Regions from separate parts of the Homo sapiens genome. Here region 2 is linked to region 1. Evidence: fine-mapped expression QTL. Tissue or cell type: cerebellar hemisphere. Region 1 holds a variant in brackets; the other region holds the start of a gene. All regions are shown on one strand. Distances are between the middles of the regions.

Region 1 (8,102 bases):
AAGGCTTGATAGCTGATTTATTTTATTTTATGTTTTTTTACATACATATATATATACATATACATATACATATACATATACATATACACATATACATATACATATACATATACATATACATATATATATATACATATACATATACATATATATATACATATACATATACATATATATATACACACACATATATATATATATATATTTGAAACGGAGTCTCACTCTGTTGCCCAGGCTGGAGTGCAGTGGTGTGATCTCGGCTCACTGCAAGCTCCGTCTCCCGGGTTCACTCCATTCTCCTGCCTCAGCCTCCTGAGTAGCTGGGACTACAGGCACCCGCCACCACACCCAGCTGATTTTTCGTATTTTTAGTAGAGATGGGGTTTCACCGTGTTAGCCAGGATGGTCTCGATCTGCTGACCTCATGATCTGCCCACCTCGGCCTCCCAAAGTGTTGGGATTACAGGCACGAGCCACCGCGCCCAGCCTTTTTTTGTGTTTTTAGTAGAGACTGGGTTTCGCCATCTTGTCCAGGCTGGTCTTGAACTCCTGACCTGGTGATCCACCTGCCTCAGTCTCCCAAAGTGCTGGGATTACAGGCGTGAGCCAGAGCGCCCTGCTATTATTATTAATTTTTAGAGACAGGGCCTTGCCTTGGCGACCAGGCTGGAGTACAGCAGTGTGATCCTAGCTCACTACAGCCTCCAATTCCTGGGCTCAAGCAATCTTCCTTCCTCAGCCCCCTGAGTAGTTGGGACTACTCCTTATGCTTGGCCAGGCACAGCGGCTCATGCCTGTAATCCCACCACTTTGGGAAGCCAGGTGAGAGGATCACTGGAGCCCAGGAATTGGAGACTAGCCTGGGCAACATAGTGGGACCTCATTTCTACAAAAATATTAAAGAATTAGCCAAGTGTGGTGGGGTGCACCTGTGGACCCAGTTACTCAGGGGGATAAGGTGGGAGAATTGCTTGAGCCCAGGAGGTAGAGATTGCAGTGAGCCAAGATCATACCACTGTACTCCAGAGTGGCTGACTGAACAAGACCATGTCTCAAAATAAATAAATAAACAAACAAACAAACGAAAAAATAAACTCCATACTCATTTAGCAATCACTCCCATTCCCCCGCCTCCCAACCCATGGCAAGCGCGAATCTGCTTTCTGTGTCTATGGATTTGCCTTTTTTTTTTTTTTTTTGAGACAGAGTCTTACTCTGTCCCCCAGGCTGGAGTGCAGTGGTGTGATCTTGGCTCACTGCAACCTCCGCTTCCCAGGTTCAAGCAATTCTCCTGCCCCAGCCTCCCGAGTAGCTGGGATTACAGGCACGCGCCACCATGCGTGGCTAATTTTTGTATTTTTAGTGAAGGTGGGGTTTCACCAAGTTGGCCAGGCTGGTCTCCAAGGCCTGGCCTCAAGTGATCTGCCCGCCTCAGCCTTCCAAAGTACTGGGATGACAGGGGTGAACCACTGAGCCCCGCCAAGGATTTGCCTATTTTGGACATTTTATATCAGTGGAATCATATAATTTATTGTATTCTGTGACTAGCTTCTTGCACTAAGCATAATGATTGAAGGTCAACTCACATTTTAGAATGAATCGGTACTTCATTCCTTTTTCTTTTTTTTTTTTTTTTTTGAGATGGAGTCTCGCTCTTGTTGCCCAGGCTGGAGTGCAGTGGCACGGTGGGATCTCAGCTCACTGCAACCTCTGCCTCCTGGCTTCAGGTGATTCTCCCTGCCCCGGTCTCCCAAGTAGCTGGGACTATAGGCACGCAGCACCACACCCAGCTAATTTTTGTATTTTTAGTTGAGACTGGGTTTCACCATGTTGGTCAGGATGGTCTCAAACTCCTGACCTGATCCACCCGTCTTGGCCTCCCAAAGTGCTGGGATTACAGGCATGAGCCACTGCGTCTGGCCTTTTTTTTTTTTTTTGAAATAGAGATGGGGTCTTGCTATGTTGTCCTGATCTCATGGGCCCAAGTGATTCTCCCACCTCGGCCTCCCAAAGTGCTGGGATTACAGGCATGAACCATCGTGCCCAGCCCAACTTAATTCCTTTTTATGGCTGAGTAATATTCCATTGCATGGACAAATATAGGACATTTTAATTTTCTATTCATCAGCTGATGGACATTTGAGTTTTCTCTACTTTTTACCTGGCAAGAATAATGCTGCTATGAACATTTCCATACGTGCATTTTATATGTTTGTATGTTTTCTTATCTGTTGAATATATACCTAGGCATGCAATTGTTGGCTCATATTAGAACCTGAGGAATTGTTTTCCAAAGCAAACAACTAGACTCTTTTCTTTTCTTTTTTATTTCCTTTCCTTTCCTTTCTTTTCCTTTCCTTTCCTTTCCCTTTCCTTCCTTCCTTCCTTCCTCTCTCTCTCTTTTTTTTTTGAGACAGGGTCTCATTCTGTTGCACAGATTGGAGTGCAGTGTTGTTGTTATCATGGCTCACTGTAACTCCAAACTCCTCGGTTTGAGTGATCCTCCCACCTCAGCCTCCCGAGTAGCTGGAACTACAGGCATGTGCCACCACACCTGGCTAATTTTTTTTTTTTTTGAGACGGAGTCTCGCTCTGTTACCCAGGCTGGAGTGCAGTGGCATGATCTCGGCTCACTGCAAGCTCCACCTCCCGAGTTCACGCCATTCTGCTGCCTCAGCCTCCCGAGTAGCTGGGACTACAGGCGCCTGCCACCACGCCTGGCTAATTTTTTTGTACTTTTTAGTAGAGATGGGGTTTCACCGTGTTAGCCAGTATGGTCTCAATCTCCTGACCTTGTGATTCGCCCACCTAGGCCTCCCAAAGTGCTGGGATTACAGGCGTGAGCCACCGCGCCCGGCCTACACCTGGCTAATTTTTTTGTATTTTTTGTAGAGACAAGGTTTTGCCATGTTGGCCAGGCTGGTCTCGAACACCTGGGCTCAGGTGATCCACCTTCCCCAGGCTCCCAAAGTGCTGAGATTGTAGGCATGAACCACTGCACCCAGCCTAGACCATTTTCTAAAGCAATGGCACCACTGGCCAGGCATAGTGGCCCATGCCTATAACCTAGAACTTTCCGAGGCTGGTGTGGGAGGATCATTTGCCCCCAGGAGTTCTAGAACAGCCTGAGCAACATAACGAGACTCCCATCTCTACAAAAAATAAAAAGTTAGCCATGGTAATGTGCACCTGTAGTCACAGCTACTCAGGAAGCTGATGTGGAAGAATCACTTAAACCCAGGAGTTCCAGGTTACAGCGAGCCATGATCACACCACTGCACTCCAGTCTGTGCAACAAAATGAGACCTTGTCCCTAAAAAAAACACAAAAGAAAAAGAAGGAAGAAATGCATTTAAAAAAATAATAATAAGACCGGGAGTGGTGGCTCACGCCTATAATCCTAGCATTTTGGGAGCCAGAGGCGGGCGGATCACCTGAGGTTGGGAGCTCAAGACCAGCCTGACCAACATGGAGAAACCCTATCTCTACTAAAAATACAAAATTAGCCAGGTGTGGTGGTGCATGCCAGTAATCCCAGCTACTTGGGAGGCTGAGGCAGGAGAATCGCTTGAACCCAGGAGGTGGAGGTTGTGGTGAGCCAAGACCATGCCATTGCACTCCAGCCTGGGCAATAAGAGTGAAAGTCTGTCTCAAAATAATAATAATAATAATAATAATAATAATAAAACAATGACAATATTTTACCTTCCCACCGGCAATGTATAAGGATTACAATGTCTCTGAATCTTCAACAACACTCGTTAATTTCTTCTTTGTTTGTTTTTGTTGTTGTTTGTTTTTTGTTTTTTGTTTTTTTGAGACGGAGTTTCACTCTGTCACCCAGGCTGGGGTGCAGTGGCGCGATATCGGCTCGCTGAAACCTCCACTTCCTAGGTTCAAGTGATTTTCCTGCCTCAGTCTCCCGAGTAGCTAGGATTACAGGCGCACGCCACCATGCCCAGCTACTTTTTGTATTTTTAGTAGAGATGGGGTTTTGCCATGTAGGCCAGGCTGGTCTCGAACTCCTGACCTCAGGTGATCTGCCTGCCTCAGCGTCCCAAAGTGCTGGGATTAGAGATATGAGCCACTGCCCCCAGACCTATTTTCTGATTTTTATTGTGGCCATACTAGAAGACGTGAAGTGGTGTCTAATTGTGGTTTGGATAGTTATTACTAGCTGGGTGTGGTGGCTCACATCTGTAATCCCAGCACTTTGGGAGGCACAGGGGGGAGAATTGCTTGAAGCCAGGAGTTCAAGACTAGCCTGGGCAACAAAGTGAGACCTCATTTCTAAAAAGAAAAAGAAAACATTAGCCAGGCCTGGTGGTGTAGTGGTGGGCCTCTGCAGTCTCAGCTACTCATAAGGCTGAGGCAGGGAGGATCGCTTGAGCCCAGGAGTTCAAGGCTGCGGTGAGCCATGTTCACGTTACTGCATTCCAGCATGGG[C/T]GACAGAGCAAGATCCTATCTAAAAAAAAATAGAAACAGGCTGGGCATGGTGGCTCATGCCTGTAATCCCAGCACTTTGGGAGGCCGAGGCAGGTGGATCACGAGGTCAGGAGATCAAGACCATCCTGGCTAACACGGTGAAAACCTGTCTCTACTAAAAATACAAAAAATTAGCCGGGTGCAGTGGCGGGCGCCTGTCGTCCCAGCTACTCCGGAGCTGAGGCAGGAGAATGGTGTGAACCCGGGAGGCGGAGCTTGCAGTGAGCGGAGATCACCCCACTGCACTCCAGCCTGGGTGACAGAGCGAGACTCTGTCTCAAAAAAAAAAAAAAAAAATTAGAAACAGGCCGGGCACAGTGGCTCATACCTGTAATCCCAACAATTTGGGAGGCCAAGGTGGGTGGATCACCTGAGGTGAGGAGTTCAAGACCAGCCTGGCCAACATGGTGAAACCCTGTCTCTACTAAAAATACAAAATTAGCTGGGCGTGGTGGCACATGCTGTAATCCTAGATACTTTGGAGGCTGAGGCAAGAGAATCACTTGAACCCGGGAGACAGAGGTTGCAGTGAGCCGAGATCACGCCACTGCACTCCAGCCTGGGCGACAAGAGCGAAACTCCGTCTCTATTGATCACGACACTCACAGTGCAGTCCATCCTTCTTTTCTTTCTTTTTTTTTGGGGGGGGCTGTGGGGGTTAAGGTCTCACTCTGTCACCCAGGCTAGAGTGCAGTGGAACACAGTTTATTGCAGCCTTGACCTTCTGGGCTCGAATGATCCTCTTCCGTTAGCCTCCCAAGTAGCTGGGATCACAGGCATGCAACACCATGGCCAGCTAATTTTTTCATTTTTAGTTTTTGTAGAAATGGGGTCTCCACATGTTACCCAGGCTGGTCTGGATCTCCTGGGCTCAAGTAATTTACCCACCTTGGCCTACCAAAGTGTTGGGATTATAGGCATGAGCTCACTGTTTTACCCAAGCTGGTCTTGAACTCCTGGCTTCAAGGGATCCTCCAACCTCGCCCTCCCAGAATGTTGGGATTACAGGTGTGAGCTAACATGCCTGGCAAACAGCATACATTCTTTTTATTGCTTTAATAAAAATGTAATTTTGTTTCTCTTTGAAGGATACTGTTGAGAAGTGTAATTACTATGATGTATAATTTGTCCACGTAGGGGTACTTGCTTTTTTTTTCTTTACTTGACTCTTTGTTTTTTTTGAGGCAGAGTTTCACTCTTTTGCCCAGGCTGAAGTGCAGTGGCGCAATCTTGCCTCACTGCAACCTCCTCCTCCTGGGCTCAAGTGATCCTCCTGCCTCGGCCTCCCGAGTAGCTGGGACTACAGGCATCTGCCACCAGGCCAGCCTAATTTTCTTTTCTTTCTTTCTTTTTTTTTTTTTGAGACAGATTCTTGCTCTGTCACCCAGGCTGGGTGCAGTGGCACAATCTAGGCTCACTGCAACCCCTGCCTCCTGGATTCAAGCCATTCTCCTGCCTCAGCCTCCCCAGTAGCTGGGATTACAGGCGTGTACTGCCACGCCTGGCTAATTTTTGTATTTTTAGCAGAGATGGGGTTTCACCATATTGGCCAGGCTGGTCTCGAACTCCTGACCTCGTGATCCGCCCACCTTGGCCTCCCAAAGTGCTGGGATTACAGATGTGGGCCACTGCACCGGGCCCTAATTTTGTATTTTCAGTAGAGAACAGGTTTCACCATGTTGGCCAGGCTGGTCTCAAACTCTTGACTTCAAGTGATCTGCCTGCCTTGGCCTCCCAAAGTGCTGGGATTACAGGCATGAGCCACTGCACCCAGCCTCCAGTGTCTGGGAATGTGCCGTTTGTCTTACCAGGAATACATTTCCTTCCCCCCCTTTTTTTTTTTTGCTAACTCCTACTCATCCATTAGATTCCATGATAGACATTTCTAGCATAGACAACAATCCATTGAATGAAAAACTGCCATTTGCAGATAGCTGGCTCTCCTGACTAATTCTGACCATTGAAGTGGGAGTGAGGTGGCATACATTATTCTATATGTCTTTCAGTTCTGAACAGAGGCATCCAAAAACTTATGCATGGCTCTCCTGTCTGCCTCTTGCTCCTCTGTGATAACTGAAGCAGAGAGTTTCAGATAGTGCAGCCACAAGATGACGGGAGACTTGTCATCCTGGGCTCCTGAATGACTGTGTGGAGCTGAGCCCCTGCCAGTCCATATAGGATGAATAGCCTGAGGGAGAAATCAACTTTGATTGTGTTAAACCACTGAGCTTTGGGCTGGTTTGTTACTGCAGCAAATCTTGACCTACTCTGACTAATACAGAACCCAACTTAAATGTGGCTTCCCCAGAGAAGTCCTCCTGGATCACAGCCCCCAGAATCAGTTTCTTCCCCTTTTGTAAGCTTGTATGTTCTTACTTGATCATTACTGCAAACATAACTGTATAATTATTTGTGTAATGAGTTCATCATCTCTCTGCTCCACCCCATCTCCAAAACCCCAAGGGGAGACAACAGTGTGGATTTTCCATTGCTGCAGCCTGGACTCAAAATAGTGTCTGATGCATAGTAGGTACCCTGGATACATTTGTTGAATGAAAGAGTTTTGTGGCAGGGCGCGGTGGCTCATGCCTGTAATCCCAGAACTTTGGGAGGCCGAGGCAGGCTGATCACGAGGTCAGGAGTTCGAGACCAGCCTGGCCAATATGGTGAAACCCTGTCTCTACTAAAAATACAAAGTTAGCTGGGCATGGTGGCACGTGCCTGTAGTCCCAGCTACTCGGGAGGCTGAGGCAGGAGAATCGCTTGATCCCGGGAGATGGAGGTTGCAGTGAGCCGAGATCATGCAACTGCACTCCAGCCTGGGCAACAGAGTGAGACTCCGTCTCAAAAAAAAAAAAAAAAAAGAAAAGAAAAGAGAGAGAGTTTTTCATCCTTTCAGCCAAAGGCAGCAAGACCAGGCACAGTGGCTCATGCCTGTAATCCCAGCACTTTGGGAGGCCAAGGCGGGCCGATCTTCTGAGGTCAGGAGTTCAAGACCAGCCTGGCCAACATGGTGAAACCCCGTCTCTACTAATAGTAAAAAAATTAGCCTGGGCATGGTGGTGCAAGCCTGTAATCCCAGCTACTCAGGAGGCTGAGGCAGGGGAATCACTTGAACCCTGGAGGTGGAGGTCGCAGTGAGCCAAGATTGCGCCACTGTACTCTGGCCTAGGCAACAGTGAGACTCTGTCTCAAAAAAAAAAAAAAAGGCAGCAATTAGCAGGACTCTTTTATAGAACATCATTCATGTAACCCACAGGGTAATGGATGCATGAGAGGCGGGACTGGATGGCCCCAAGAAACAGGGGAAGTTTGACAAGGAACATGATCTATTGTGAGAAAGTACCTATCCACATAGTTAACGTTTTCTTCAAGACTGTAATTTGTTCCAACAACTGCTCTGCCTGGGAGGGATTTCCGGGCATGATTTATTTCACTAAGAGGCATGGGAACTGGGTGGAGATGCATGGAAACATTTTTTGAATAGTTGAGAGGCCCAGGATAAAATTCATGCACAGACGCCACAATGCAGTCAGTAGAAGGAAATGTTATCTTATTGGGTTCTACTCAAGGGCAGTTTTGAGTCAGTGCTCTAATGCCACCATACTGATTTGTTT
Region 2 (8,102 bases), 400 kb after region 1:
CCATTCTCGGCCAGATAACAGTGACTCACACCTGTAATTCCAGCACTTAGGAGGCCGAGGCGGGTGGATCACCTGAGGTCAGGAGTTTGAGACCAGCCTGGCTAACACGGTGAAACTCCGTCCCTAATAAAAATATAAAAATCAGCCGGGCATGGTGGCACGTGCCTGTAATCCCAGCCACTCAGGAGGCTGAAGCAGGAGAATCGCTTGAATGCGGGAGGGGAAGATTGCAGTGAGCTGAGATCACATCACTGCACTCCAGCCTGGGTGACAGAGTGAGACTCTGTCTCAAAAAAAAAAAAAAAAGATCTCTTCTTGCCACAGCATGGGAGGCTTGTGTGATCTGTCCCCTCGCCTGTGACCTCCCTGCAGCTCACTCGCTCCAGTGGTAATGCCGCCCTGCAGTTCATGCAAGTTCCTGCCATGAAGCTTACGTCGTTTCTGGAAGCCTCTTTTCCTAGGTCTCCCCCACCCCTCCTGTTGCCAACAAGGCTCATTCCCTCACCCTCCTCAGGGAGGCCTGCCCTGCTGCACCCTGCAGAACTGCAGGGCCACTCCTCCTGTCTGCTCTGCTGCTCTCTACCCGCCACCCTCTGCAGTCCTTCATGTCTCTGTCTCCCTGAACAGCAGGTAAGTCACACTGTCTGAGTGACTGATTTGTCCGCAGCTATACACTGGCATCTGCAACTCAGGCCACACTTGTTGAGTGATCCATCAAGGAACCAAATGCACAACCTCACTCACCATACAGATCCGGCCGATTCCGCAGATGGTGCCGCACAAAGTTGTGGCCAGGCCGGGGCAGCAGTGAGCCTTTGATCCGGTCCAGGACCTGGGGGCAAGGCCAAGGTCAAGGATGGAAGTCTGCCAGGAGCTTCTCCCTTGTCCTGAGAGGCTCCTTCCCTGCTGACCTCCACCCTTCTCTTTCCATGCCCCACCTGAAAGAACTCAGCCTTTCCCTCTCTTTTTTTTTTTTTTTTTTTTTGAGACAGAGTCTTGCTCTGTCGGCCAGGCTGGATGGAGTAGTGGCATGATCTCGGCTCACTGCAACCTCTGCCTCCCGAGCTCAAGCAATTCTCCTACCTCAGCCACCCGAGTAGCTGGGATTACAGGCGTGTGCCACCACGCCTGGCTAATAGTTGTATTTTTAATAGAGACGGGATTTCACCATGTTGGCCAGGCTGGTCTCGAACTCCTGACCTCAGGTAATCCACCCACCTCGGCCTCCCAAAGTACTGGGATTACAGGCGTGAGCCACCGTTCCCAGCCCCCTCTTTTTTTTCCCTCTTTTTTTTTTTGTTTTGAGACGGAGTCTCGCTCTGTCACCCAGGCTGGAGTGCAGTGGTGCCATCTCGGCTCACTGCAAGCTCCGCCTCCTGGGTTCACACCATTCTCCTGCCTCAGCCTCCCAAAGAGCAGGGACTACAGGCGCCCACCACCACCCCCGGCTAATTTTTTGTATTTTTAGTAGAGATGGGGTTTCACCGTGTTAGCCAGGATGGTCTCGATCTCCTGACCTCATGATCCTCCCACCTTGGCCTCCCAAAGTGCTGGGATTACAGGCGTGAGCCACCGCACCCGGCCTCAGCACCCCCTTTTTCTTTTTGAGACAGAGTCTCACTCTGTTCAGGCTGGAGTGCAGTGGCACGATCTTGGCTCACTACCACCTCCGCCTCCCAGGTTCAAGTGATTCTCGAGCCTCAGACTCCTGAGTAGCTGGGACTACAGGTGTGTGCCACCATGCCTGGCTAATTTTTGTATTTTTAGTAGAGATGGGGTTTCACCGCGTTGGCCAGGCTGGTCTCCAACTCCTGACCTCAAGTGATCCACCGCCTCGGCATCCCAAAGTGCTAGGATTACAGGCGCCGACCACTGCACTTGGCTAATTTTTCTATTTTATTTTATTTTTTATTTAATTTTATTTTATTTATCTTATTTTATTTTTGAGACAGAGTCTCATTCTTTTTGCCCAGGCTGGAGTGCACTGGCACGATCTTGGCTCACTGCAACCTCCGCCTGGCGGATTCAAGCGATTCTCCTGCCTCAGCCTCCAGAGTAGCTGGGATTACAGGCGCCCACCACAAAGCCCGGCTAATTTTGTTGTATTTTTAGTAGAGACGGGGTTTCACCATGTTTGGCCAGGCTGGTCTCAAACTCCTGACCTCAGGTGATCCACCCACCCAGGCCTCTCAAAGTGCTGGGATTACAGGCATGAGCCACCCCGCACCCGGCAGTTTTTGTATTTTTGGTAGAGACGGGGTTTCCCCATGTTAGCCAGGCTGGTCTTGAACTCCTCAGGTTATCTGCCCACCTCGGCCCCCTTAAGTGCTGGGATTACAGGCAGGAGCCACTGCGCCCAGTCCATCTTTGGTCTTCTGCATATGCTGTTCCCTGTGCCTGGAACATATACTCCTGCTTCCCTACCCTATTCCCCAGGGAAGCCTTCTGTCTCCTTTAGGTCTCAGCCAATTCCTCACCTCCCCCAGGAGGCCTTTCTCTAACCCACCAGATTGTGTGTGTCCCCTGTGTTCCCATAGTCCCGATCCATAACCAGTCCCACCATAACCCTTTGAGAGCACCACAGTTCGTTCACCAGCACCCACCATCACCAGCACCCTGCCCAGGGGAAGAGTGGCTGAACCCTGAGCATAACTCTGAGCCCCATCCCACCTGCCTCCCCAGCCTGACCTGTGAGGTGTCCACGTCAAAGAAGCTCTGATAGTAGCTGAAGGTCCAGAATCCCGGCTGCTGCTGCTGCTGCTGCTCCTGCAGGAGCTGCACATTGCGGGCATTCAGTGCCTGCCCGGAGAGCCTGGGTCAGCTGGGGGCTGCAAGGAGGCAGGACACAGGGACTCACCGCGGCCTTGTCACTCTCCTCCTCCACCTCATCCTCGGCTCCATAGCTGCCACCTGAGCCCACGGCCACAGCCACGTGCCCTTGTGGGGTCAGCTGATCGCTTCTGCTGGTGGTGGCTGCATCTGGGGTGTCAGCCAGAAGATTAGTGGCCTCCTCGAATTCTGTGGAGGAGGTATATGGGACACACGCACGTTTGAGGGGTGGAAAGAACTCGACTGGGCCCAAGCTAAACCGATGCTCATCTGGGGGCGGAGGCTCTGCTGAGCCATTGATCTCCCCCAAGGTGGGGCCCAACTTCCTCAGTTTGGAGGCATCCGGAGGACATCTGTTCCCTTCCTCCTAAAGTGGAACTGCAACTTAGGGTTGACGCTGGGATGGGGTCAGGGTCTGGGGACGAGAGGCTCGGGTTTGAGGTCTGAGTTCAGGGCGGGGGCGGGGTTCGAGTCAGAGATGGGTCTCACTCCTGGGTCAGGGTTCACAGCCGCCTAGGCTTCGGGGTAGAGAAATTGGAAGCCGTATCGGGGGGAGGTTCTGGCCCGGGGCGGGAGTGGGAGATCCGGCCACGTCGGGGCCGCACTCACCATGGAAGGTCAGCTCGTCGGCCGATGCCATGGTCGTTCAGGGGCGTCTCCGCATCCCTCGCTGAGGACAGAGACCGGTCAGGCACACTTCCCCCCCGCCCCCGAGCCGGTCCCTCGGCCCCCAGCCCTACCTGGCGACCAACTGCACCCACGGAGGCTTGAACTCGTCGTCCCGTCCCCACAGGTGCGCTCCGCCCCCCCTCACCTGAGGCCACCTGGGCCGGCGTGGCTGGGGCTCTCTGCGCCTGCGCGTCTCGCCTACCCGTCAGACTCCAACCGACTCAGACCTGACAGCAACATCCGGCGCCTGTCCTCTTTCTATCCTCTCCCGTTGGGAAGCCACTTCCGGTAAAGTTGGCGCTTGCGCAGAAGAGACTCCCGGGCTCTTAACGTCGGGTATCAGGAGTTTCTTCCCGGAGCAAGGACCCCCAAGACGGAAGAGGATGGCCGCGGCGGCTCTGAGGAGATTTTGGTCCCGGCGCCGCGCAGAGGCGGGCGACGCGGTAGTGGCGAAGCCGGGAGTGTGGGCGCGGCTGGGTGAGTAGCGGCGGAAGGCGGCAGGGTGGGTGGCCGCCGCGACAGGGTGGGTGGCCGCCGCGGCCGGATCACTCTTACCGCGCTCCTCTCCCCTCAGGGTCCTGGGCCCGCGCGCTGCTCCGGGACTACGCCGAGGCCTGCAGGGACGCTTCGGCGGAGGCTAGGGCCCGGCCGGGGCGCGCCGCTGTGTATGTGGGTCTGCTGGGCGGCGCGGCGGCCTGCTTCACGCTGGCGCCCAGCGAGGGTGCCTTCGAGGAGGCGCTGCTGGAGGCGTCGGGGACCCTCCTGCTGCTGGCGCCGGCCACCCGCAACCGCGAGTCCGAAGCCTTCGTGCAGAGGCTGCTCTGGCTGCGGGGCCGTGGCCGCCTGCGCTACGTCAACCTGGGGCTCTGCTCGCTGGTGTACGAGGCGCCCTTCGACGCCCAGGCCAGCCTCTACCAGGCGCGTTGCCGCTACCTGCAGCCCCGCTGGACCGACTTCCCCGGCCGGGTCCTGGACGTGGGCTTCGTGGGTCGCTGGTGGGTGCTGGGGGCCTGGATGCGCGACTGCGACATCAACGACGACGAATTCCTGCACCTGCCGGCGCATTTGCGGGTGGTCGGGCCCCAGCAGCTGCATTCCGAGACCAACGAGCGGCTCTTCGATGAGAAGTACAAGCCTGTCGTGCTCACCGACGATCAGGTGGACCAGGCGCTGTGGGAGGAGCAGGTCTTGCAGAAGGAGAAGAAGGACAGGCTCGCCCTGAGCCAGGCCCACTCGCTGGTGCAGGCGGAGGCCCCGAGATGAAACCCTGAGGCCCCCGAGTCCTGGCAAACTGCTTGCCTGGGGTGGTGCAGTTCTGAGTGTGCCTCACCTGCAGAACAGCTGAGACAGATGATGTGCAAAGTGTTTTCTCACTGGATTTGCACAAGTTTGGGGAGCCTTTCTGCCCCCCGTCTTTGTTCTTTATTAGCTGAAGCTAATTCAGAGCCACCTGGGTCCGGGAGTTGGGGACAGCAGAACGACTTGACACATGTTCATCACTGGCAGAGCTGGTCATGAGCCTTTTATATAAGCCTTTTTCATCGGGCCTCAGAGGCCCTCCTTAAGGAGGTACCACATTGGTCAGCTGACTTGCAAACTCTTCTAAGGCCACTTAGATTTTCTTTTTCAAGTTTGGGTTGTGGCCTGGCATGGTGATGTCTGTAATCCCAGCAGTTTGCAAACTGAGGCAAGAGAATCGCTTGAGGCCAGGAGTTTGAGGCCAGCTAGAGTGACATAGCAAGACTCCGATGCTACAAAAAAGAATAATAATAGTAATTAACTAAATAAAATTTGAGCTGAAATGTTTTTATTCTATGACCTATTCTCTCTCGTTTTTTTTTTTTTTTTTTTTGAGACAGGGTCTTGCTCTGTTTTGCCTGCTGGAGTGCAGTGGTGCAATCTCGGCTCACTGCAACCTCTGCCTCCCAGGTTCAAGTGATTCTCCTGCCTCAGCCTCCTCAGTAGCTGGGATTACAGGCCTGTGCCAACATGCCTGGCAAATTGTTGTATTTTTAATAGAGATGGGGTTTCACCATATTGGCCAGGCTGGTCTTGAACTCCTGACCTCAGGTGATCCACCTGCCTCGCATTTCCAAAGTGCTGGGATTATAGGAGTGAACCACCACACCTGGCCTTTCATTTTGATAAGTAACATTTTTGCCATTCCCAGCTCTTTGGAAGGCTGAGGTAGGAGGATTGCTTGAGATCAGGAGTTCAAGACCAGTTTAGGTAAAATAGTGAGAGCTTTCTCAAAAACTAAAATATTTGGAAGGGTAAAGCAGGCAAATCATTTGAGCTTAGGAGTTCAACACCAGCCTGGGCAATATGGCAAAACCCCGTCTCTACAAAAAGTACAAAAATTTACCAAAGGTGTTGAATGAGAATTGAAAATATGTATACATAGAAAAATTAGCCAGACATGTTGGACCATGTCTGTAGTCCCAGCTATTCAGGAAGGCTGAGATGGGAGGATCACCTGAGCCTGGGAGTTCAACGCTGCAGTGAGCCACGATCGTGCCACTGCACTCCATCTTGGACAACAGAGTGAGACTGTCTCAAAAAGTAAAATAAGTGGATGGGCCCGGTGGCTCAAGCCTGTAATCCCAGCACTTTGGGAGGCCGAGGCAGGTGGATCACGACGTCAGGAGATGGAGACCATCCTAGCTAACACGGTGAAACCCCATCTCTACTAAAAATTCAAAAAAATTGGCCGGGCGCGGTGGCTCACGCCTGTAATCCCAGCACTTTGGGAGGCCCAGTCAGGTGGATCACGAGGTCAGGAGATCGAGACCATCCTGGCTAACATGGTGAAACCCCGTCTCTACTAAAAATACAAAAAATTACCGGGGCGTGGTGGCGGGCACCTATAGTCCCAGCTACTCAGGAGGCTGAGGCAGGAGAATGGCATGAACCTGGGAGGCGGAGCTTGCAGTGAGCCGAGATTGCGCCACTGCACTCCAGCCTGGGCGACAGAACAAGACTCCGTCTCAAAAAAAAAAAAAAAAAAAAAATAGCTGGGCGTGGTGGCAGGCATCTGTAGTCCCAGCTACTCAGGAGGCTGAGGCAGGAGAATAGCGTGAACCCGGGAGGTGGAGCTTGCAGCAAGCAGAGATTGCACCACTGCACTCCAGCCTGGGCAACATAGTGAGACTCCAGCTCAAAAAAATAAATAAATAAGTAACATTTTTGTTTTGATTTTTTTAAGTTTTTTTTTGAGACAGAGTTTCGCTCTTGTTGCCCAGGCTGGAGTGCAGTGGCACTCGCCCCAACCACCGCCTCCTGGGTTCAAGCGTTTCTCCTGTCTCAGCCTCCCAAGTAGCTGGGATTACAGGCGCATGCCACCACGCCCGGCTAATTTTTGTATTTTTTAGTAGAGATGAGATTTCATCATGTTGGTCAGGCTGGCCTCAAACTCCTGACCTCAGGTGATCCGCCTGCCTCAGCCTCCCAAAGTGCTGGGATTGCAGACGTGAGCCACCGTGCCCGGCCCTCGTTCCCTATTAAAAATACAAAACCAGGCAATTGACAGTGTCATGACTATTGGGATGTTACAGGGAAGTTTTTTGTAAAACAACCTGTTTACCAGATGAGCATTGTAAGTTACTGGAGGTGGCTTGGAAGGATAAAGCATTTTCTGGTCTGGAAATCTATATGGAATCATAGATTCTGGTTATGTTGTACTTCAGTAACCCTGAAACAGAATTCTATGAAAAGAAGTAAGTTAGTGTACACAGCTGGTACTTAGCTAGGTTATGGTAAATTGTATTTTTGTTGTTGTTGTTGTTGTTGAGACAGAGTCTCACTCTGACACCCAGGCTGGAGTGCAGTGGCACGATTTCGGCTCACTGCAACCTCTGCCTCCCAGGTTCAAGTGATTCTCTTGCCTCAGCCTCCTGGGTAGCTGGGATTACAGGCATATGCCATGATGCCCAGCTAGTTTTTGTATTTTTAGTAGAGATGGGGTTTCACCATGTTGGCCAAGCTGGTCTCAAACTCCTGACCTCAAGTGATCCTCCCACCTCGGCCTCCCAAAGTGCTGGGATTATAGGTGTGAGCCACTGCGCCCGGCCAATATTTTTTTTTTTTTTTTTTTTTTTTTGAGACAGAGTTTCACTCTATTGCCTAGGCTGGAGTACAGTGGCATGATCTCGGCTCACTGCAGCCTCTGCCACCTGGGTTCAAGCGATTCTCCTGCCTCAGCCTCCCAAGTAGCTGGGATTACAGGCATCTGGCACTGCGTCCGGCTAATTGTTGTATTTTTAGTAGAGACGGGATTTCACTATCTTGGCCAGGCTGGTCTTGAACTCTTTGTGATCCACCTGCCTTGGCCTCCCAAAGTGCTGGGATAATAGGCGTGAGCCACCACACCCGGCCTCAATACTTTTTATTTTTTTTAAGTGTAATTTATGGCCGGCGCAGTGGCTCACACCTGTAACTACAACACTTTGGGAGGCCAAGGTGGGAGGATCGCTTGAGTCCAGGAGTTCGAGACCAGCCTAGGCGACATGGTGAAATCCTGTCTCTACAAAATACACAAAATTACAAAATACACAAAAATTAATCGGGTATGGTACACACCTGTACTACCAACTATTCAGGAGGCT

What was found. PIP is the estimated chance that this variant, and not a neighbour inherited with it, causes the effect.
Region 2: YIPF2 starts here. The variant in region 1 is fine-mapped to the expression of YIPF2 in cerebellar hemisphere (GTEx, PIP 0.96).

What each region holds. Positions count from the first base shown.
Region 1 is chr19:10,525,954-10,534,055 of GRCh38, forward strand. No RefSeq gene overlaps it. Among named protein-coding and RNA genes, the nearest start is that of S1PR5, 13 kb to the left of the region's middle. The variant C/T (reference allele first, on the strand shown) is at 4,447.
Region 2 is chr19:10,924,942-10,933,043 of GRCh38, forward strand. YIPF2 (Yip1 domain family member 2) reads right to left here and starts at 3,698. Exons shown (of 10, transcript NM_001321439.2): 1 at 3,570-3,698; 2 at 3,439-3,499; 3 at 2,858-3,018; 4 at 2,689-2,775; 5 at 745-832. The coding sequence starts at 3,469. TIMM29 (translocase of inner mitochondrial membrane 29) reads left to right here and starts at 3,870. Exons shown (of 2, transcript NM_138358.4): 1 at 3,870-3,975; 2 at 4,073-5,313. The coding sequence starts at 3,882. The coding sequence ends at 4,761. RefSeq lists enhancers at 2,329-3,031, 3,032-3,732 and silencers at 3,946-4,225, 4,266-4,315.